Linked DNA regions of Homo sapiens: region 1 is linked to region 2. The links come from fine-mapping of genetic effects on gene expression. A gene starts in region 2. The other region holds a variant in brackets. All regions are shown on one strand. Distances are from middle to middle. Region 1 overlaps FAM162B (family with sequence similarity 162 member B). Region 2 holds the start of ZUP1 (zinc finger containing ubiquitin peptidase 1).

Region 1 (12,423 bases), 88 kb after region 2:
TGTTTAAAAAAATATTTTGTCCAGATTATTTAGTCCAATACTAGAAGACTTTCTCTGGACATCTCATCTTCTATGTAACCAGAAATGGAAATCATCATATTCATTCTTATAGATATTCTCTCTGAGTATCTCAATATTTAGAATATTCCAGGAATCCTCAAGGTATAAAAAGACTTTTAAAGAGTAGTATAATTTTAAGATAATTGATTTCCAGTTATTTTAACCCCATATATACTCCCTCCTACAATGTATATGCCCAAGAATGTGGTCTGACGGTTCTCCTTTCTCACCTCTCCTCATAACCAACCTTACACTATTGTGCAAAAAGAGAGCACTTCACTCTCATTCTGAACCTTACTCATGCTGTGCTTTGTGATACAAAAACCTTCTGGATGACAAAGAATAATTTTAGAATTAATAGCTCCAGAGAGGGAGTTCCATGAGAGCAAAACAAAGGGAGTCACTGTGCAAAATGTGAAAGCAGCCAGTGCCACAGTGGGTCTCACGAAGACAGAGCATAGACAGGTGGTTACCAGAGGCCAGAGAGAGTGGTGGAGAGAGGGCAATGAAGATAAGTTGATTAACAGGTACAAACATATGGTTTGGTAGAAGAAGTAAGATCTAGTGTTAGATAGATCAGTAGGGTGACTATAGTTTACAGTGATCTATTGTATATTTCAAAATAGCTAGAAGAGAATCATTCAAATGGTTCTAGCATAAAGACAAATATTTAAGGTGACAGATAAGTACACTGATTTTATCTTTACACCTTATAAGAATATATCAAATTATCTCATGTACCCTGAATTTATGTACATCTATTGTGTATAAATTTACAAATTAAAAAAAAAATAAAGCAGCAGTGCCTTGGTTCATCCAAGACACAGACTCATAACAATGCTTCATGCCTTCTCTATCTAAGAGTTAGGATTCAAAAATGAGATTATTGTCACAGGAATATATATTAACATTTTCATTTTCAAATCAAAGTAAGCCTTTTTCTAACAAAAAGTATAGTTACGTGCCACATAATGACATTTTGGTGTAAGATGAATGAACCACATATACAACAGTGGTCCCCAAGGTCATAGGGAGCATACATAGAAGTCTGATATATGGCACTTGGTATTGGCACTGCAGATCAAGTAGGGGACATGACTGATAATTCAGTAATGGTGCTGGGACGTTTGGTTTTCCATATGAAAAATACATATAAATAAAAATATATATACTATCTAGGTTTATGTAAGTATACTCTGTCATGTTTGTACAATGATAAAATCACCTAACAATGCATTTCTCAGAATGTATCCCCATCATTAAATGATCTGTGACTGTATAAGTTTGATTTGGCTCATTAGTTTGACAATAAGAACTGGCTTTGTACCTCAAAATGGACAGGCAGACATCCTCCACAAACTGATTGAGCTAATTATGTGGCTTCAAGGTTATGATGGAAAATACACTTAAAGCACATGAACTATACAATATGCCAGAAGTTATATCTTTTATAATACTTACATTTATGGTTAAAAAATAACAAATGTGAAGTTAAAAATGTGCAGGGATGAGATATGTAATTTTAAAAAGTTATTTTAGGGCTTAAGCAAGTTTGACGATCATTAATGTATACCATTTTTTTTCTCTAACATTTTTGTCATTTTCAAAATTGCTGTTACAATTACTGTTTTAGTACTTTACCATTTTAGGAATAGGTTTTAGAATTAATAATTCAACCTATTTCACCTAGTTACAAACTATAAAAAGAATAATCAGAGGTACTACCCAGCTGCTAAATACAGTGAAATTTTGGTTGAAAATTAGTTTTGATTTTAATGAGCCCTTAATGATTAGTTCAACCTCATTTTAATGACATATACAATGTGCTCATTTTAGCATTATATGTAGTGGCCAGAAACTGTGCCAAATATCAAAATAAATTGTGGTATGTTTATACAACAGAATACAGCAATGACAATGGATGAACTAATGGTACACACAATTTGTGGATTAACCTTATAACTGTCAGGTAAATAATCCACACACACAAGTGCATAATGTATAAATCCATTTATATAAAGTTCAAAAACAGGCAAAATGAATCAAAGGTGATGAAACTCAGAAAAACTGCTATGTTTGGGAGGTAATGGCTGAGAAAAGGCAGGAATGAGGCTGTGAAGTGTTGCCAATATTCTACATCTTCACTTTGGCAGTGGTTACACAGGTGTTCACGACATAAATATCTATCAGACTGTATACAGTTTTGTCCACTTTTTGAATGCATGGTATACTTCAGTAAAAGTTTACTAAAAAATAAAAATAAAAAAGACATTGTGCTTCTTGTTACCAAAATAAAACCATGGCAGATATTTTGGTAAATATTCTATTTTTCCCATCTTCTACTGTTGCTGATGACAGGGATGGTATTCAGGTGAACACTTTGTCACTTAGAATATCATTTAGCTTTAGCCTGTGCAGCCAATGCAGCTTCTTCACGCCACTTAGCTTTCTTTGCCAAGTTCCAACTTGTTAAGGATTCATGTCGTTCTACAGCCTGTGGGGGGGAAGAAATATATATATATATATATATATAGATACACGTATATATATATATATACATATATGTATATATATCTCACTGTGACTCTCTGGAAACTGGAAAAATTTGTATTTGAGATAGAAATACACAGGAGGGAATAGAATTAGAAGTTCTAACATATGTTAATAATGGGAAGAGAGAACAGACTGAATGGGTAAAGAGGCCATATTTGAAGTTATGACAGCATAGACTTTTTCAGAAGTGAGGAAAGCTATAAGTCCTCAAACTGAGAGACATACAAAGTCCTTAGTAAAATAAATAAGCATTTAATATATATTGAAGGATACCTAGTGTGCATCTCACATTTAATATAGCCAAAATAGAGAGTTGACATATTTTGTTCCCCCTGCCTACCAGTCTTTCCCTAGCCATACACATCTCAATAAATGGCAGCATCACCCACCTACTTGCTAAAGTCAAAAAAACCCAGGCCTTTTCACTTCTTTATTCCATTTTCTTTTCTGCTTCCACAATGAATTCACCACAAAGTTCTATCCTTTTTACTTCCCCAAATTTACCTGAACTTGCTAACCTTTTCTGCATCTCCATCTGCCACAATTTCTTTAAGGTACATGCATTGTTATTAAAAATGAAAAATGAATTGGAGACAGGCAAGAGGGACAGTGGTGGGACCATTTAGAAGATATTGCAATGAACCAGGCAATAGATGTATATTGGTATCTCAGGAGAGATACTGAGGAGTGCTCCAATTTGGCTGTATTTTGAAAGTGGAGCCAATGGGGTTGCTGATGACTTATCCACGAGCAGCTAGAAAGATAGAGTTGACATCAACTGAGAGGAGGAAAACAGTACAGAAAAGGGTGGCTCAGGGTTGTCTGGGGGAAGATCTAGAGTTCAACTTTTGACACGTTAAGTTTGAGATTCCATTAGACATCCAAAGGGAAATGTTAAGTAAGCAACTGACTATATGAATTTGAAGTGCAGAAGGAAGACATTAGCTGAAATATAAATTTGAGAGTCCTTGGAATATAGAAGGTGTTTAAATCCAGAAGACTTGGTAAGATCCCCAAGGGAGTGAGTGTAGCTAGAGAACGGAAAGACTAAAGACTGATCCATGGGGAGATTCCACTGTTATGAGGTCCAGGAGAATAGGAGAAACTGGCAGAGTAAACTTGGAAGACGTGGCCAACAGACAACCTACGTGAGTGTGGTACCACGGAAACCAAGCGAAGAAACCGTTTCATAAAAGATAAACGATTTTCATTCCCAATGCTCTCACTTCAGAGCTTCTGAGGATTTTTATGGAAGGACAATGGCTAGTTTGCATTCTCCAACAAAGGGTAAGTGAAAAATGTCACATTGGCCTATTCCAGTGTTTTTCATATATCCATTTATAACTAACTATTTCCCTATGTGCCAAAAATATTCTTTTCTTGGTTGAAGAATGGAGAGACTGGCTACTATGTGCCAGAATTTCTGTAGAGGAGTGGCTTTGAAGTGCAGGGAGACCAAATTCCTTTATAATCCAGATATTCTCAACCTAGACATAGTTTTAGCAGCTCCAGTAGATTGAACTCAGATTGAGCAGAATCTGAGGGAGGGAAGATACTGATTCAGCACTGATTCGGCAGAAGAAAATATTTGCTAATCAAGCAGAATTGTCAACTGCTTCCCCAAAATGTAATGAGATTTATCAGCACCCAAGCATTGAAACGTTGTGTCAAACTGAGTCTAAATAAACAGTCTTCAAAGTAGGATAAGAACTACGATGTCCACTGAGGTCAAGAAAGCAATAGGAACACATTTCATCTTTTTTTAAAAAGAAAAATTGCTAACATTTAATAGAAGAGTTGAGGAATAGAGAATCCTCCTCTATGTCAGGAGTTGGAGATATCTTGAGGAACCTGTGACAGTTCTATAATACAGAAGAATATAAAGGCACATCTCATTTTATTGTGCTTTGCTTTATTGTGACTTTCTTTCTTTCTTCTTCTTCTTTTTTTGTTTTTTTCAAATTGAAGGTTTGTGGCAACCTTGCATGGAACAAGTCTATAGGCTCCATTTTTCCAACAGCATGTGCTCACTTCGTGTCTCTGTCACATTTTGCTAATTTTTGCAATATTTCAAACTTTTTCATTTTCATAACATCTGTTATGGTAATCTGTAATCAGTGATTGCTGTTGTTACTATTGTACTTATTTTAGGGTGCCATAAGTATGCCCATATAAGACAGCTAACTTAATTGATAAACATTGTATGTATTCTCCACTCCATCCACTGGCCAGTCTCCCATTTCTCTCCCTCTCTTTGGGCCTCCCTATTCCTTGAGATGCAACAATATTGAAATTAGGCCAATTAATAACCCTATAATGGCCTCTACATGTTCAAGTAAAAGGAAGGGTTGTACATCTCTCACTTTAAAAAACTAGAAATGATTAAGCTTAGTGAAAAAAGGCATGTTGAAAACCAAGATAGGTCAAAAGCTTGGCCTCTTGTGCCACGTTGTGAATGCAAAGGAAAAGTTATTGAAGAAAATTAAAAGTACTACTCCAGTGAACACCTAAATAAAGTGAAACAGCCTTATTACTGATATAAAAAACGTTTTAGTGGTCTGGAAAGAAGATCAAACCAGCCACAGCATTCCTTTAAGCCAAAGCCTAATATGGAGCAAGGCCCTAACTGTCTTCAGTTCTGTGAAGGCTGAGAGAGGTGGGAAAGCAGTAGAAGACAAGTTGGAAGCTAGCAGAGGTTGGTTCATGAGGCTGAAGGAAAGAAGCTGTCTCCATAACAAAAGTGCAAGGTGAAGCAGCAAGTGCTAATAGAGAAGCTACAGCAAGTCATCTAGAAGATCTATTATAGCTAATTTTGTTGATGAAGTCTATGCTAAAATACAGTTTTTCAATGAAGACAAAATAGCCTCATTTTGGAAGAAAATGCCATCTAGAACTTTCAGAGATAGAGAGAAGTCAATGCCTGGTTTTAAAGCTTCAAAGACAGGCTGACTCTCTTGTTAGGAGCTATTGGCAGCTGATGACTTTAAGTGGAAGCCAATACTCATTAGCATTCTGAAAATCCTAGGGCTCTTAAGAATTATGGTAAATCTACTCTGCCTGTGCCACGAATGGAATAATGAAGCCTGGGTGACAGCATATCTGCTTACATGGCTTTCTGAATACTTTAAGCTCACTGTTGAGACTTACTTCTCAGAAAAAAAAAGATTCCTTTCAAAATATTACTTCTCAGTGACAATGCACCTGGTCACTCAAAAGTTCTTATGGATATTTACAAGGAGATTAATATTTTCATGACTGCTAACACAACATCCATTCTTCAGCCCATGGAAAAAGGTGTCATTTCAACTTTCAAGTCTTGTTATTTAAGAAACACATTTTGTAAGGCTATAGCTACCATAGATAGTGATTCCTCTGATGGATCTGAGCAAAGTAAATTGAAAACCTTCTGGAAAGGAGTCACCATTCTAGATGCCATTAAGAATATTTGTGAATCATAGGAAGAGGTCAATATTAATAGGAGTTCGGACGAAGCTGATTCCAATCCTCATAGATAACTTTGAGGGGTTCAAGC[C/T]TTCAGTGGAGGAAGTATGAGGAAGTAACTGCAGATGTGGTGGAATAGCAACAGAACTGGAATTCATAGTGGAGCCTGAAAACAAAATTGAATTGCTATAATCTCATGATAAAACTTTCACAAGATGAGTTGCTTCTTACAAATAGCAAAAAGTGGTTTCTTGAGATGGAAACTACTGCTGGTGAAGATGTTGTGAACATTGGTGAAATTAGAACAAAGTATTTAGAATATTACATAAACTTAGTTAATAAAGTAGTGGTAGGGTTTGAGAGAACTGACTCCAATTTTGAAAGAAGTTCTACTGTGAGGAAAATGCTGTCAAACAGCATTGCCTGCTACATGGAAATCTTTCATGAAAGAAAGAGTCAACTGATATGGCAAACTTCATTGTCATCTTATTTTAAGAAATTGCCACAGCCACCCCAACCTTCAGCAACCACCATCCTGATCTGTCAGCAGCCATCAACATCAAAGCAAGACCTTCCACCAGCAAAAAGATTACAACTCATTGTGTACTATAAACATAACTTTTATATGCATTGGGAAACCAAAAAATTTGCGTGTCTCAGTTTATTCTAATATTCACTTTATTGTGAACTGAACATACAATATCTCTGAGGTATGCCTGTTTTCATTCATTTCAATACCATTAGAATAGATATTAATAAATAAGAATGGTTTCTTTTTTGGCCAGAAAATTACATGGCGTCTTTAAATACTTATATGGATAATTTTGTAAGCTTAAATAAAGTCTCTAAACAATTTATGGGGTTTTGAATCCATTTGGCACAAAATTCAAAACTACTATATCTTCCAATTATTTTGCAAGAATAAAATAGCTGAAGAACATCAGGGAGGGTAAGAAATTACTGGGCATATTTCAACAAAAGCTTTGGCATAGTTGGTGGATAAAATTAAGTATTAGCACCACCATTTAGTAATCACAGCTAAAGAGGTATTTCTTTTACTGGATCTATGTATCAATAAGTGTCTTATTTTCAGTTACAATATTATAATGAATATAAAATCGCAAAATTGTAGATAATAATAAAGCATTTCAGTTGTATTGTTACTATATGAAAATATGTTAAATATATAATACGGTATATGTCATACATGTTAATAAAATTTTAGGGAAAATGTTTTTGTGTCATTCACAAACAAAGTACAATTTATTGGATGCATGCAGTGGCTCGTGCCTGTAATCCCAGCACTTTGGGAGGCCAAGGCAGGAGGATCGCTTTGAGTTTAGGAGTTTGAGGCCAGCCTGGGTGGCATGGCAAAAACTCATTTCTACAAAAAATACAAAAAAATTAGCCCGGCATGGTCATTGACACCTGTGGTCCCAGATACTTAGGAGGCTGAGCCTGCAGAATCCCTTGAGCCTGGCAGGCAGAGGATGCAGGGAGCCAAGATCATGCCACTGCACTCCAGCCTGGGTGAGAGTGAGACCCTGTCCTCCTCCACCAAAAAAAAAAAAAAAAGGGGTGGGGTGGGGAGACCAACTGTGTCAAATGCTGATAGGTCAATGAAGATGAGTGTATCATTGGTGACCTTGATAACAGCAGTTTGATGGAGCGTTTGAGGCACGAGCCTGATCAGACGGAATGAGACAGGAAATCAGAGACAGTGTATATAGACAGGTCTACTGAAAAGGTTTGCCATAGAGAAATGCAGCTATACCAAAAGAAGTTTTGTTTTTGGTTTTGAAGAGGGAAGTAGAAACATTTCTATATTTTGATAAAAAATGATACAGTAGAGAAGAAAAACAACTAATGACGAGCAAATAAACCTGAGAATTCCTGGAATGAAAACCTTGAAAAGGCAAAATGGAATGGGATCCACGCAATTAATAAGAGCTTCTAGATTGGAGCAAGAATCATTTACAATAGGCAGAAAAGCAAAATATACAGGATTATGTGTCATAAGACTGGAAACTGCTCCTTGGGCTGCTACAATTCTCTCAGTGAGGTGGAAGGAAAGGTCATCAATGGGGAGGACTGTGGAGGTGTAAGGTCTGAAAAGACAGCATGAAATAGTTGGATGGCTAGACTTCTTTTCCTGTGTTTAAGAGGCATGTGCATTTTATTTTCTGCAAATTCTGCCTTTTTGTATCTTTCACCCATTTTTTAAAATAAAAGGTTGTTGCTGTTTTATTTAGTGGAGCTCCTTATAATTTAAGAAAATTAGCTCTTAGTTTGTGATCTATTTTGTATTTTTCCTAGTTTGTCATTTGTGTTTTTACTTTATTTATGGCACTTTTTACCAAGCAGAATTTTAAACTTTATATGATTAAATTTATCTATCTTTTCTGTTGTATAGCTTCTCAGTTTTGTTCTATATTTAGAAATGTCTACCTAACCACTATAAAGAATTCCCTCATATATTCTTTTGGTGATTTTAAGGCTTCACATTTAATGTGAAAATCTTATATCCAACTGCAATTTATTTTATGTAGAAAGTATAGTTGGAATGTCCCAATATCATTTCTTGACTAATTTATCTTTCTCCACTCATATACAGAGTCACTATTTCATATATTAAATCCCTATGTAGTGGGTTATTTATGTGATTTGAATTCAGTTCTATTAAGTTGCCTGTCTATTTGTATGTCAGTACTGCAGTTTTAATTATTGTTGTTGTTTTGTTTTAATATATTTTAGAGCTAGTCCTCCCTTAGAACTATTATTTTTAGTATTTTCTTGTGTATTTTGCTTATTTTTCTATATAAATTTTAGACTTAGTTTGTCTACTTCCAAAACAAATCCTATTGCTATTTTTATTGCAATCATGTCAACTTTATAGACTTAGAGAAGTTCGCTCTCTTTAAAATGTCAAGTCTTCCTATTCCAAATAAAAATTTCTTAGGTTATACCTTCTCTTGTGGCCACTGGTAGTGTTTAAAAGTTGCCTTTATATAGATATTGCATGATTTTTAATTTCATTCTTACGTGCCTTACCTTTTTTGTTTGTTGCTATTTTAAGTAGGATCCTTATTTCTAATCTTTCTTTCTTTTTTTTTTTTTTTTTATTTTTTGAGACAGAGTCTCTGTCGCCCAGGCTGGAGTGCAGTGGCACAATCTCGGATCACTGCAAGCTCCACCTCCTGGGTTCACGCCATTCTCCTGCGTAGCCTCCCGAGTAGCTGGGACTGCAGGCGCCCGCCACCACGCCTGGCTAATTTTTTTGTATTTTTTTTTTTAGTAGTGACGGAGCTTCACCGTGTTAGCCAGGATGATCTCGATTTCCTGACCTTGTGATCCGCCCGCCTCGGCCTCCCAAAGTGCTGGGATTACAGGCGTGAGCCACCGCGCCCGGCCTGATCTTTATTTTCACTGGGTTTTGAATAAAGAGGAGAGTGAAAATTTTTAAATCTTGTCACTATCTTGCTTAAAACTCTACACTGGATCCCCAATGTATTTTTAAAAACCTGAACTATTTGCAGTGATCCATAGGCCTGACACTATCTGGACTCTCCCTGTCTCATACCATCTTCTCTTTGCTCATTATACTCCATCCACACTAGCTCCTTTTTGTTTCTTAACACACCAGACCCTTTCTCACCTCTAAGCTTTGCACATGCTGTTCTTTCCTTCCCCCGGTCTTCTCATGGCTAGCTTATTCTCATCCTCCTCAGAGAGGACGTCCCTGACCACTCCATCAAAAATGGCCTCTCCTGGGGTGTTACTATTTTATCATCCTGTTCCTTTCCTTCATTGCACTAAGAATTCCTCAGATCTTTTTAGTTTATGTGTTTACTTGATCACTCTCCATTTTCCCTACTACAAAATACCTGTCTTTTAATTCCATGATATTCTAATAACTACATGCAGAGTGCCTGGCATGTCTCAGGTGCTCAAAAGTATTTAGTGTATTAATGATTTAAAATCAGTGTTTGCTATCACACTTTTGGAGAAGAGGAAACAGAGCAATAACTGGTGCTACACATAAAACTCAATTCTCAGTTGCTACTTTTTGTGTCAGATTCACACAGAGAAAATCCCTGGCTATTGATTTATAATAGAATTATATTTGAAATATGGAATTTTAACAGGAAATGAAAAAACCTTTCCTTCAAATCATATGTGTTGAAAATAAAATGATGACATCAGTAGATCTCTAATATGCCAACTTGCTGATAAAATATATATTAAGTTTAATTGGTCTTAATGTCTCATTTGGAAACTTGTGATTATGATTTAAAAACATTAAAGTGCCATTATAAATAAATTATTAGAGGGTGATTCTAAGTAAACAAATTGTCTAATTAATGTTTATCTTTTTGATGTAGATGAGGCAATACACTAATCATCAAAATATTCCTAGAAACTAGAGAATCATCAATTTGGCAGGCAGTCATTTAACGTTAGGTTAAAAACAAAATATTATCAAAGTTATTTATTTACATGCTTGAGTGTTCAGTCCAGTAAACATTTCAAAATTTCTCATTTGGTGAGAACAATTTCAAAGCATAGATTTTTTCCATGCTAATAGGAATGAAAGGACATTTATATAATATCAGTAGGCTTGTAAGTCCTAATCCCTGTGTGAAGTTAGTGGGCTCAGACACACTTGGGCACCTGAGGAGTAAAGGACAGAATCACAGAATTGGGCAGAATGGTAATTAGCTAAATACGCCCAGAGAGTGAGGATGTATGGAGCCAAGCAAACTATTCTGAATGATACGTATGCACTATTGAAACCCAGTGTTCACAACCAAAAATGTTATAATCCAGCTCTAATGGCTTCAGTTGCAGGTGCCACGATGAGGAGGGGCACTGTTAAAACTGGAGTGTATTGAGAGGACAGCTCAAAGGTAGAAGGAAGTTGTTAGAGTGGTTAAAACTGAAGAAGCAAATACTCATAGGTATGTGTTAGAAATGTCAAAATACTTGTGGGGCTGCTCTTTGTGGTAAAAAGTGACCAGTAGATGGAAGGATTTTGGGAGGCAGAAAACAAAATTAGAGGGTAGTCAGCTCTTAATTTCTCACTAGAGGTATTAAACAGAAACCATACATTGAGAAAGGCAAGGAAAGGGCTGACATAAAGGATCCAGACAAACTAGAATACCTTGGCAATCACTTCCAAGCTCTGCATTTCTAACTAGTTCATACTTCTGTGCAATAGCTAATTGAGTTCCTGATTTAATGAATGATCTAGTCTGGATAACTTTCAACAACAAAGTTCTCCGTCTTCTGCAGATTTTAACCACGGTGTAAATTGTTTTGTTTATAAGTTAAAACAAGCATTTGTCCCTCCTGGCCATATAGTGTTAATTTGTTGACTCAAATTTCCATGAACAAATTTATCTCCAGTATTTTTTATATATATATATACACATATATATACATATATATACACTTATATATATACTTATATATATACTTATATATACATATATACATATATAAATACTTATATATATACTTGTATATATACTTATATATACACACACACACACACACACATATATATATATATGACTTCAAGTCTCAAAGACAAAATTGTTCTTATATTAAAAAACAGCAGTAATCCTGAATCGAGAACAATGTCCATGACATTTCTTAAAATTCACCCTTTGGGCTGACTAAGGAGGTACTCACCCTTTTGGTGAGATACTCTTTTAGGGAGGTACTTAAAAAGAGGTACTTACCCTTTTAACTGACTTGCCCTTTTAAGGAGATACTCACCCTTTTGGCTGACACTATCACAGCAAAGCAGGCGATAATTGTGAGTCCAATCATTATGTAACAAGCTTTCACTCGAGCTTTGTTTCTTGCGGTGTCTATCATTTCTGGCCTAAACAAAGATGTGTATTTTGTTAAATATGTAAAAGTAATATGGTTTTCTGACAGGCATGATAGATAATTTGCCATGTAAACATTCCAAAAAATTCCCTGAATGCAAACTGCATTTGGTGACATTTTCATGTGAAAGACTTTGAAATGCTAGCTAGTTATTTTTACCAATTTCAAATTAACAAGTATTTATTCAGATCTTAAATTAATGTTAGCCATTATGAAACCACTGTATAGAATATTAGTTTCTAATTCCTCAAAATATAACTACTAGAGATGCTAACTTGACTCTCCATTGTTTTTATTCACTAAGTGGGGTAAAGGAAGAGTTAAAGCATATGTATGTTGATGACTTGCAATTATTTAGCCTCTTTGTAAAGTAGGCTTTGTTTTCCATTTGAACAGTTTTTTTTTTAAAACTCATTTTTATCATTTTGTTTTTTTCACTCGCCTCCCAATCTCTTGTCCCTTCACATGCTA
Region 2 (12,423 bases):
TATGTTCAAAATGCTCACTGAAATAAAGGAGGGAACTGAATCTTTGAAACCAGGACAGAAAGTTACTAAGAAAAAATAGAAAGATGAAGAAAATGAAAATATTAAGATGTAATCATTGGAATAAAAAATTCAATGGCAAAGCTCAAGAGAAAATGAAGTATTAAGTACTCAGAAAATATTTCCAAAAGCAGCAGTAAGAAATAATGGTATACAGCTTCCATAAGTAATGCTGGCGGATGTAAGAGAAGTCTTTCAGCCAGTTCTCTACCATAAAATGCCTTAGAGCCAGAGCCAATGCCAAGGAGGCCTTTGCTTATCGCTTTGATCATCACACTACTGCAAGCCAATCCCTCCACCCCTTCTAGTTTTAAGTGATAACCAACCTTCCTCAACATTAGACCACACTACACCTCATATCCCAGTATACATTTTTTACCACCAGAATCTAAACTAAGCCTCAGAGGTTAGCCATCATCATCCAATGGAGTCATCTAGGGCTGATGTAACCACCAACACTGTTGTGTCAATGAATCCAATCTAATTGTTCAGTGGCAGTGTCTTAACAATCTTTAAATACCTGAAGGACATCTGCTAATCTGACCCAAGCTATTACCCCTCCTATTCTCCCAATACCTACCACAATGCCCTCAGAAATACCATCGGTCATCAGTCAGCTTCTCTATACACAAAATCTTTCTCTGGATATTCACTTCACCTTCTTGACTTAACTAAAATCTGGTTGGTTCATGACACCCCATTTTCTCTACAGCCCCCTAACACACAGGCAACTTTTCTTTCACAATTCAGGGCCCTAGAAGTAGAAGAGGCATCCCCTTTGCTCCCTTTCACCACTGTCAAACCTGTTTTAAGCCCCATTTTTGTAATAACTCATGTCACCATAATATGGCATCATCTACCTTTCTTAGTGCCTAATATTTTCTGAAGTCTTAGACACTCCTTTCATTTACTAAAAATGTTAACACCTGGATCAAAACCTTCTTTTCCTAGCCCCTATACTATGATCATTCTTAGCAACTTCAATATCCATAGAAATAGTTCTATGCCTTCATTTCCAACAATCTTTTCCTTTACCCTAATTTACCAACCGAATGACAAAAATTATACCCTTAATTTATCACTAAGTGAATCTCTGAAATCTCAATTTCAAATATCACTCCCAAACACCTATCCTTCTACCTCACTTCTTTTAATTCTACCACTCTAAAAAGTGTTTGACCTAACTAAAACCTCCTATATAGAATATACAAACCCTATTTTTCTGTCATTCATTACCCCCCTCATGTTTTTCTTTACTTTCCAGCCCAGATTCCACATATCTTCTCTATATGATAATCATTCCCTTAAAAACACCTGCAAATCCACCTGTTCCATTTACTATAACTGAACATTGGTTAAATCTAGCTATTTACCTATTTCACTTCTGTACTTCTAATGACAACAGGTCTTTTTTAACCGCAACTAAACATTCAGACTCCTAAGACTACCAAAATTCACCAGTTTACTGGTCCTGAGAAACTTACAGGAAATGTTGTGTCAGCAAAGGATTGTCAGGCATTTTTCAATACACTTGTTTTTTTTCCTTGCAGCAGTCCATAAATTTTCATTATTAGCAGATAATAAAATGATCTACTTAGAATACTCAAGGGAATTAATGTAGAATTATTAAAATTCGTTAACAGGCCAGACGCAGTGGCTCCCACCTGCAATCCTAATGCTTTGGGAGGCTGAGGAAGGAAGACTGCTTGAGCACAGGAGTTCAAGACCAGCCTGAGTAACATAGCAGGACCTCATTTCTATTAAATATTAAAAAAAAAAAATTAGCTGGGCGTGGTGGTGCAGGCCTGTAGTCCCAGCCCCTTGGGAGGCTGAGGCAGGAGAACCACTTGAGCCCAGGAGATCAAGGCTGCAGTGAGCCATGATCATGCCACTGAACTCCAGCCTGGGTGACATAGTAAGACCTTGTCTCAAAAAATATAAAATAAAATAATATTAGTAATAGTTGAATAAGACTAGATACCTCAACTATCTATAAAAATTGATAGTGTTTCTATAAAACTGCAAAAGTTTCTTAGATGAGAGGGAAAAAAATCTAATTTACAAAAGCAACAGAAAATATAAACTATACAGAAATAAAGCTAACACAAATGTGCAATGAAAAAACAACACAAGCCTGGGCGCGGTGGCTTACGCCTGTAATCCCAGCATTTTGGGGGGCTGAGGTAGGTGGATCATCTGAGGTTAGGAGTTCCAGACCAGCCTGGCCAACATGGCGAAACCCTGTCTCTACTAAAAGTACAAAAATTAACTGGGCCTGGTGGTGGGCAGTGGTAATCCCAGCTACTTGGGAGGCTGAGACAGGAGAATTGCTTGAACCTGGGAGGCAGAGGTTGCAGTGAGCAGAGATCGTGCCATTACACTCCAGCCTGGGTGACAGGGCAAAAGTCCATCAAAAAAAAAAAAAACACACACACACAAAATTGTATTAAAGGATACAAAAGATGACCTGAATTAATGGGGAGATGTACTTTGATCTAATTTAAAACAAAATGACAACAGAGTTTTTATGAAACTTGATAATATGGCTTTAAAACTCAAAGAAAAGAAAGAATGAGAAGGTCTAAGTTGATGATGAAAATGAAGAACGAGGGAAAAACTGTCCTATCTGATGTTGATGACATTTTACAAAATAGCTATTAAAGTGGTGGTGTAATAAGGGAACAAAAGTCACATAGATAAATACAGCAGAAGTAAGAGACCAGAAACTGGCCCACACAGATATGAAAATGTAATAAAAAACAGAAACCATATTATAAATCAGAGATATATCTGGTTTCTGTACAGGGAAAAACTAAAAATTAGATCCCAAGTTCACAAAATATACACATGTACACAAGTACAGACACACACACACACACACACACACACAATCCAGAAAAAATTTTAAAAAGTGAAAATATAAAACATTAAAGTTTTTAGAATATATGAGAATAGCTTTTTGAATTCAGAGTAAAGAATACTTTTTTAGACAATACATAGAAAACAAAAATAAAATTCAAATACTGCACAAAATTCAAGGATAAGCAACATCTTATGGAATACAGCTGAAGGATTAGTATTGAAAATATATTTTAAAAGCAACTGAAAAAAACTCAAAAAATATTTGACAATATACAGTTGAAAAATGCATGTAACTCAAGTGTACAAAAAATGTAATATGCAGTTCATAATAGAGGAAATTAAAATAACTATACAAAAAAAGATTGATTTCATAATCAGAGAAATGCATTAAAAAAGAATGTAGACACTGACTTCATACCTTTTACATAGAGTAATTCAAATGTATCACAGATCTAAATGTAAAATACAAAACTATCAAACTTCTAGAAGTTGGCAAAGAGTTTTTAGACACACCAAAAGCATGATCCATGAAAGAAGAAATTGTCAAGTTGCACTTCATTAAAATTAAAAACTTCTACTTCATGAAAGACACTGTTAAAAGAATAAAAAGACAAGCCACAGACTAAGAGAAAATATCTGCAAAATACACATCCAAAAAAGAACTTGTATCCAAAATACAGAAAAATTTTTCTTTTTTTTTTTTTTTTTTTTGGAGACAGGGTCTTATTCAGTCACCCAGAGTGGAGTGCGGAGTGCAGTAGTGTGATCATGGCTCACTGCAGCGTCCACTTCCCAGGCTCAGGTGATCCTCCTATTTCAGCCTCCCAAATAGCTGGGGCTACAGACGCAAGCCACTAGGCCTGGCTAGTTTTTTGGTTTTTTTTTTTTTTTTTGAAGAGACGAGCTTTTGCCACATTGCCCAGGATCGTCTCGAACTCCTGGACTCAAGGGATCTGCCCACCTCGGACTCTCAACTTGCTGGGATTACAGGCATGAGCCACAACACCTGGCTCCACAAATTCTTAAAGTTCAACAATAAGAAAAAGACATAAGATCCTAAATGTGTACACACCAACAATAGAGTCTCAAAATACATGAAACAAAACCTGACAGAGCTGAAAGGAAAAATAGATAAATTTACAATTATAATCAGGGATTTCAACAACCCCTTCTCAAAAATTGATAGAACTACTAGACAGTACTACTATAGAAAACAAGCAAGGATATAAATAATCTGAACATAAACAACAGGATCTAGTGACATACATATAACATTCCACCCAACAAAGCAGAATACACTTTTTTTTCCCAAGTATCCACAGAACATGACCAAGATAGCTCGTGTCTTGAGCCATAAAACAGGCCTCAACAAATTTAAAAGAACTGATATCACAGAGAGTTTGTTCTCCAATCATAACAGAATAATGGAGTCAAAATAGAACTCAATGCAAAGTCAGAGAGTCCAGGACAGTCCAGATGCTACTGGGTTAGTGACAATAAAAAGAATACCCTCTGGAAACTAGACAGAAAGTTCCAAAACTACTCTCAATGTAGCTGAAACATTTTATATCTGCATTAAAATTCTTTTCCATAATGTACTTTTATATTTCAGTAACAGCAAATGAAAAATGTTATAGACATAAAATGGATTTCAAAACACATCTGTAGTAAGCTGACTTACAAACCAACTTTTAAAATACCACATATTAAATTGAGGCTGTAAACTTATAATTTATAATGAAATGAAAACTTTACCTTCCAATGGAATGTCTAAAAGATTGGCATGCTTTGTTTTCACATGAGTTTCCATATCTTCACTGTGCTCCTCTATTTTTCCACAGAATGGACATTCAGGAGGACTGTATGTTGTTTCATAAACAGATCCTTTTATTTCGGTCAGGCTGGACTGTTTTTCCCTACTTTTCAGGAATTTTCTAGATTCAGTTAAGTTCTCTGAATAGAAGCCTTCATGTTTTAAAGTACTATCTTTAGTCAGGTTTTGAGCTGAATTTTTTGGATGATTAGATGCACAACCTGAAAGAATACTTGAATTAACTTCCATTCCACACTGTAGGGTGTTGTCTTTCTTGTTATCTGAAGTTCCATATTGTACTGTATTTATCCTCTCAAAGTTTCTTTCAAGTGTATTCTGCTCAAAATGAGCTGTTTCGATATGAAAACACATTTCATCATAATTCACACCTGACAACTTGCAAAATGGACATATAATTTCACTTTCCATGTGAACAATTAGGTGAGCTTTCATGTCTGGTTCTGAGGTTACTGTTTCACCACAAATATTACAGGAAAGCATGGTATTGACAAGTAGCTAGAAAAGAACATAACATTAGGTTTCAAAGATTTGAAGAAAAAATGTGTTTCATAAAATGATTTGAGACAATTACTTGGTCTTTAACGCTGGATTATTTTGATGAAGAAGTTTTCAATGTACTTACTGTTCCTCAAATACAAAAACTTATTTATAAATATCAACCAAAATTTCATTTATTTTTTTTTAAAAAAAGGCAATAATAATGAATACAAGTAATTTTAAAAATAAAATATTTCAAAAAATGTCTCTGGCCCAAGGTGGAGAAAAAATAACGTTTAAAAAATTGTCCAGGTAAGATAAATCAGGTAAGAAAAAAATGAAGAGAAGAAACCTATTTATCAACTGATATATCTAAATACTGAATACTGAAGCTGATTATATTGAGGAGGTAAATAAACACATCTTACAAGTAGAGTTTAACACTGTAAACTTAGAGTCTTACATGTATCAAGTGCTATTTAAGTGCTATTATTGTAATTTAAGTACTATTATTATCGCTCTACACATAAAGAAATTCTGGCTCAGACAGGTCACCACAAGCAGAAAAAGGTGGAAGCCAAAATGCCAACCCCGTCGTGCTCCACAGCCTGTACTCTCAGCCCCAAGAATAAAAGCAGAAGTGGTATAGTAGAAAAAAGCACTTATTCCAGAGTCAAGAGAACTGGGTAATAATTTCAGATTCATCATTTTGGGTAAGGAATCTCATCTCTCTGAGGTTCAGTCAAAGACTACTGTAAAATCCAAAGGTAGTTATTTTTGGATTTTATGGACAAATAAAGTACTGACTACTGACATAAAAGTGTTAAAAAAATAATTTTAAAAAAAGCAATCACTTCGCCACCACCTTCCTACTACAGGTCATCGTTCAGCTAAAGACTATTTAAAATCAAACAGGAAAAGTAATGACACTATCACTTCATTTAAATAAATTTACCTTTAAAATACCTCCCTACATTGTCCTTATTTTTTTCATTTCTCTCCAGACAAATGGATACAGTCTCTGATTTTAGAAGGCAGTTCTCCCGAGCCCCCAGTGGGATTAATGTCACACCCGGAGTTTCTTCTCTTCCGGTGGCTGGGACACGGTCAGACACAGAATGATGAACTTGGACATGGACTCAGATTAAGCGGGTAAGAGACAAGAGAGTACCCAGGTGCCTCAGAGGAAGCGAGTGAGAGGCATGAAGGACCCAGTGCCAAGCTAGGTACGTGGTGGGTGAGGTCAGAAGACCGCAAGGCCGAGTCTCCCAAACGTTCCGCGCCAAAGGCACAAGCCAGGCACACGAAACTAGCAGGCACTAACTGGGTCAAAGCTTTGGGCCTGGGGAATAAGGGAGGGGACCATCAATTCTTACCGGCCCAGAGGCCAGCAGCTGCCACACTGAGCTCCGCTAGGCTTCCCCTTTGGGCCTCGCTGGCAGACGAGTGCGTGCGCGGCGTCCAGTACCTCTCCTGGCCTGATGACTGAGGCCAGGCCTTCCCAATACGCAGAGTTTCACAGTTAACCGAGGAAAGAATTAGGAACTTCCAACACCTTGGCCCTCAGTACCTCATTCAAAAGCACTTCCTTACTCCCACGGAAAAGAAGTAATCCCAGAATGCGCCGCTCCACGCCGGTCTCTATGCAGTGCATTCTGGGAGATGTAGTCTTTTTTTTTTTTTTTTTTTTTTGAGACGGAGTCTCGCTCTGCTGCCCAGGCTGGAGGGCAGTGCGCGATCTCGGCTCACTGCAAGCTCCGCCTCCCGGGTTCACGCCATTCTCCTGCCTCAGCCTCCCGAGTAGCTGGGACTACAGGCGCCCGCCACCATGCCTGGCTAATTTTTTGTATTTTTAGTAGAGACGGGGTTTCACCGTGTTAGCCAGGATGGTCTCGATCTCCTGAGAGATGTAGTCATTTTTGCATTCCTCCCATTTCCGAGTTTTTCCTTCTCCCATCGAGTTTCCTGCCACTCAATTGCTAGGAGAGAAAACCGGGCTCTGAGGTCATTCATACTTAATCTGAATGAGTTCACAGGGCAGGTCCTGGGGCAAATAGCAGTCTACACTAGGGCCTGCTGAGTAGCACTCTATTTTAGTATCAATAAAGGGTTTATAATGCTGCTAGGTATCAAGCTCCCAGCTATGCACCGAAGGTAAAGGATACCAGGTTCTTTCCTCAAGGTTACAAGATAACAAATATCTTGGTTTGTATGTATGTATGTATGTATATATATATATTTTTTGAGACGGAGTCTTGCTCTGTCGCCCAGGCTGGAGTGCAGTGGTGCCATCTCTGCTCACTGCAAGCTCCGCCTCCCGGGTTCACGCCATTCTCCTGCCTCAGCCTCCCAAGTAGCTGGGACTACAGGCGCCCGCCACCACGTCTGACTAATTTTTTGTATTTTTAGTAGAGATGGGGTTTCACCGTGTTATCCCGGATGGTCTCGATCTCCTGACCTCGTGATCCGCCCCCCTCGGCCTCCCAAAGTGCTGGGATTACAAGCGTGAGCCACCGTGCCCGGCCGTATGTATGTATTTTTAGAGAGGAGGACTCTTTCTGTCACCCAGGCCAGAGCACAGTGGCTAAAATAGCTCACCGCAGCCTCGAACTCCTGGCCTCAAATGATCCTCCCATCTCGGCCTCCCAAAGTGTGAGCCACCATGTTAGCCCAAAATCACAAATATCTTGTCATTCAGGCTTTATTTCATTCAACAAATATTTAAAGAGTGTCTATTAGAAAGGCGTTTTGCTTGCAACAGGAGCTGCAGCAGTAATCAAAATACACAAAATTCAGGATTTTTGAGGCTTACATGCTGGTGAGGTAGAGGAAATAAAAAGTAAATTAACTGATCATGATAAGTGCTATGAAGAAAATAAAACTGGATTGGCCAGGCTCAGTGGCTCACATATGTAATCCCAGCACTTTGGGAGGCCGAGGCGGGCAGATCATTTGAGGTCAGGAGTTCAAGACCAGCCTGGCCAACATGGTGAAAGCCCGTCTCTACTAGAAATACAAAAATTAGCTGGGCGTGGTGGCAGGTGCCTGTAATCCCAGCTACTCGGGAGGCTGAGGCAGGAGAATTGCTTGAACCCGGGAGGCGTAGGTTGCAGCGAGCTGAGATCGTGCCACTACACTCCAGCCTGAGTGACAGAGCAATAGATTTTTGAGACTGAGTCTCAAAAAAAAAAAAAAAAAAAGAAAGAAAGAAAGAAAAGAAAACTGGATTATAGAGATACGAATGTTTAGAAAAGGTCTTGATGAAGGGTTGAGTGTGCTGATGAACAAACCTTACACCAACAGGGGAAATAGCATTTCAGACAGATAAAATAACAAGAACGAAGGCCTAAGGCTGGAGCAAAAAGAACACTTTTTGACCAGAGCATAATGTGGTAAGGAGAAAAATGATTACAAGATGAGGTTAGGGTTGTAGACAGGGGCCAAATCATGTAGGACCTGGTAGAAAACTAGTGAGGTATTTAAATAGGAGGGTGATGTTATCTGATGATAAATAGTATGTTTTTAAAAATTGGCTAGGCGCGGTGGCTCACGCCTGTAATCCCAACACTTTGGGAGGCAGAGGCGGGCAGATCGCATGAGCCCAGGAATTCCAGACCAGCCTGGGCAACATGGAGAAACCCGTCTCAACCAAAAAAATACAAAAATTAGCTGGGCGTGGTGATGTGGCCTGTAATTCTAGCTACTCGGGAGACTGAGGTGGGAGGATCACCTGAGCCCCAGGAGGTTGAGGCTGCAGTGAGCCATAATGGCACCATTGCACTCCAATCTGGGCGACAGAATGAGAACCTGTCTCAAAAAAAAAAATCGTTCTGGAAATTTGTGGACAAACATGGAAGATTAAACATGTAAATTTATATTTCTCTGCCTCTCAAAATCTATTAAAATGATAGCAGGAAAATAAAAATAATACTACTAACAGCTAATGAGATTTTACAAAACTTTGAAAGCTAAAAAAAGATGAATGATTAATAACGAACTTAACTCAGAACCGATGTCAACAAAAACCAAGTCAAGTCATACTGTCTTGACTTGTATGGGTTTCTGCTTGCCCAGCACAGCAGCTGGGGTCTGCTTGCCCAGCACAGCACAGCCAAACACTGACACTGGGATAGCAGCAAGAGAAAGTTGAGGCATTTATTGTAGGGCACCAAGGAAGGAGAATTGAGTAGCTCATGCTTAAGACCTGAACTCCCACATTGCTTACAGGTAAGAGTTTTTAAAGGTGAGGAGGCAGAGGTTACAGGCGACGTCATAAATCAATACACGGAAGCTATACGTTGGTTTGATTTTAAAAGGCTGGACATCTTGAAGTGGTTCGGGGCACAGGTTACAGGTGGATTCAAAGATTTTCTGACGTTTGATTTGCTAAGGAGGCAAAGCTTTGTCTAAAAATTTGGGATCAGCAGAAAAGAATATTAGCTCTCGCTCAGGGGTGTGATCTCCTCCAGGCCCCTCAGGAAGAAATTCAGAACAAAGAACAGCGATCAGGATTTAGTCTTCAGTTTCCCATTATCAGGGGTCAAATCATGTTGGACAGTAGATCTGTTTGGTGGGGGATCTGGGTTTCTGGAAAACAACCCAGGGACATATGTTAAAATGTTATCTTAAGTTTCTATAGGGAATAAAACATCTCCTGACTTTTTTGGGCCAATGTTTTAAGCTACTATTACCTTTTTGTTTATCAAATTGCTCATTTATTTCTCAGCGCTAGCTAGGTTCCTGGAATTTTCCTTGAAGGAACTCAATATTTTCCTTTATTTCCATGCTTGGGGGTTGCCCACGGGCCCCTAAGTAGGGTCCCTACTCCATCTTAATACACTCCTCCTTCCCAGAAATCTGAAAATTCCAGAAATTAAACACAAGATACTTCTAAAAATGATGGTGACATTTGGAACTAAATAAAGGATCATTTTACTGAAAGTCTGAATAAGGAACAGTTAGAACTCCAACTCTAGATTTTCTCCATCACCAGTGTGATGGTTAATTTCTCCTGAAACATTATTTCTTATTATTTCCCAGGAAGCTCCCGCCAAATGAGGGAAGAAGCAAAGAAAGTGGAAGGTATGGGGCCAGGCATGGTGGCTCACACCTGTAATCCTACACTTTGGGAAGCCGAGGCAGACAGATTGCTTGAGCTCAGGAGTTTGAGACCAGCCTGGGCAATATGGTGAAACCCCGTCACTACCAACTTGACTGAATTGAGGGATGCCTAGATGGCTGGTGAAGCATTGTTTCTAGCTGTATCTGTGAGGGTGTTTCCAGAGGAGATTGACCTGTGAGTCAGTGGACTGAGAGAGGAAGACCTACCCTCAGTGTGGCAAGCACCATACAGTCAGCTGAGGGCTAGGCTGGGGCAAACAGGAAAGAGAGGGAATTCTCTCTCTTTGCTCTCTCCCTTCTGGAACAAGACACCTTTTTCCTTCCTGCTTTTGGACATCAGATTGCACCATATTCATCTTTTAGACACTGGGATTCGCACGAGTGGCTTCCCAGGAACTCTTGGGCTTTTAGCCTCAGAGTGGGGGCCAAACCCTCTGCTTCCCTGGTTCTGAGGCTGCTGGGACTGAGCCACATTACCAGTTTCTCTGGTGCTCTAGCTTGCAAGATGGCCTATTGTGGGACTTCCACCTCTGTGATCATGTGTCAATTCCCTAATAAATTGCCTCTCGTATATAGTATTGGTTATGTCTCTCTGAAGAACTCTAATACAGCTAGGTTGCCATGAGACTCCTCTTTCCCTTCCAGATAGAAGACTACAGATTTAGTTCATGAAGAAAACGAACCAAAAAAACCAGCTATGAACCCTATCCTGGGGGTTCAAAGGCTTGACCCTATCCTTAGGGTAAAGGCACTGGACTGAAAATGGGAAATAGGGAAGGCTAAATACTAAATTATGAACCTCTTGCTCCTTTTCCCCCATCACATCTTGATATGTGATTTCTGCCTCCAAGGCAGGAGGTTGGAAAATTCCTCCCCAGAGAAATCAATTGTCCCAAGAGAAAGACCTAACAGATGTCAACTTTTAGGAAGTTATCCAATGATACAGCCAGGTCCCTATTTTACCACTCTGTGGGAAGGCTGCCAATTGGTGAATAAACAAGCCCCACTGACGCACAGTGTATAGAAGGTTTCTTTAATGTCTTATTCTTAAATATGAATAGATACTCAAGGGTTCCAGGCATTTGAGTACAGCCTATGGCAAGTAAGATGGAGAGCTAAACAATAATCATAGTTTAAAAAGTAAGCTCTGAAGAAAAAAAGAAAGAGAAAAAAATTTCAATGGAAACCACAATTAATATCCTCAGATAGATAAGAAAATGTATTGAATCTCTAAATCCAAAATAGGAAATAGCTGTTGGGATTAAAAATATTTCATACTTTAAAATACACATATTAATAGAGGCCTGGAAGATAAAGCCCAAGAAATTTCTCAGAAAACAGAACAAAAAGAACAAGGGATAGAAAAACAGGAAAGGAAAATAATCAAATGAGAAATTGGATTCTACATCCAACTAATAAGAGATACAGAGAGGAATAACAACAAAAACAATGGAAAATTAGTTATCAATGAAATGACATGATAATTCATGACTTAATAATAATTTCTCCTGAAACATTATTTCTTATTATTTCCCAGGAAGCTCCCACCAAAATGAGGGAAGAAGCAAAGAAAGTGGAAGGTATGGGGCCGGGCATGGTGGCTCACACCTGTAATCCTAGCACTTTGGGAGGCCGAGGCAGGCGGATTGCTTGAGCTTAGGAGTTTGAGACCAGCCTGGGCAATATGGTGAAACCCCGTCACTACCAAAAATACAAAAAATTATCCGGACGTGGTGACGTGTGCCTGTGGTCCTAGTTACTGAGGAGGCTGAGGTTGGAGGATCATTTGAGCCCAGAAGGCAGAGGTTGCAGTGATCCGAGATCACACCACTGCACTCTAGCCTGGGTGACAGATTGAGACCCCATCTCAAAAAAAAAAAAAAAAAAAAAAGAAAAGAAAAGAAAAGAAAAGAAAAAAAGAAAGTAGAACGTATGGAATTCCATAAAAAACTCTACCAAGATGAGAGAGAACAGACAGGAATGAAGGCAGAAAGGAAGAAAAAGAAAGGGAGGGAGGGAGGAAAGAGGCAACTGACAGATCACTTCATGTTTATGACCATACTGAGAGAAAT

What was found. PIP is the estimated chance that this variant, and not a neighbour inherited with it, causes the effect.
Region 1: its variant is fine-mapped to the expression of ZUP1 in lung (TOPMed, PIP above 0.99).

Annotation. Positions count from the first base shown.
Region 1 is chr6:116,750,142-116,762,564 of GRCh38, forward strand. FAM162B (family with sequence similarity 162 member B) reads right to left here. Exons shown (of 4, transcript NM_001085480.3): 3 at 11,836-11,944; 4 at 2,056-2,554. The coding sequence ends at 2,456. Among named protein-coding and RNA genes, the nearest start is that of FAM162B, 9.4 kb to the right of the region's middle. RefSeq lists an enhancer at 2,858-3,027. The variant C/T (reference allele first, on the strand shown) is at 6,146.
Region 2 is chr6:116,661,960-116,674,382 of GRCh38, forward strand. It overlaps ZUP1 (zinc finger containing ubiquitin peptidase 1), which reads right to left and starts at 6,807. Exons shown (of 10, transcript NM_145062.3): 1 at 6,607-6,807; 2 at 4,675-5,248. The coding sequence starts at 5,233. RefSeq lists a silencer at 5,731-5,880 and an enhancer at 6,642-6,831.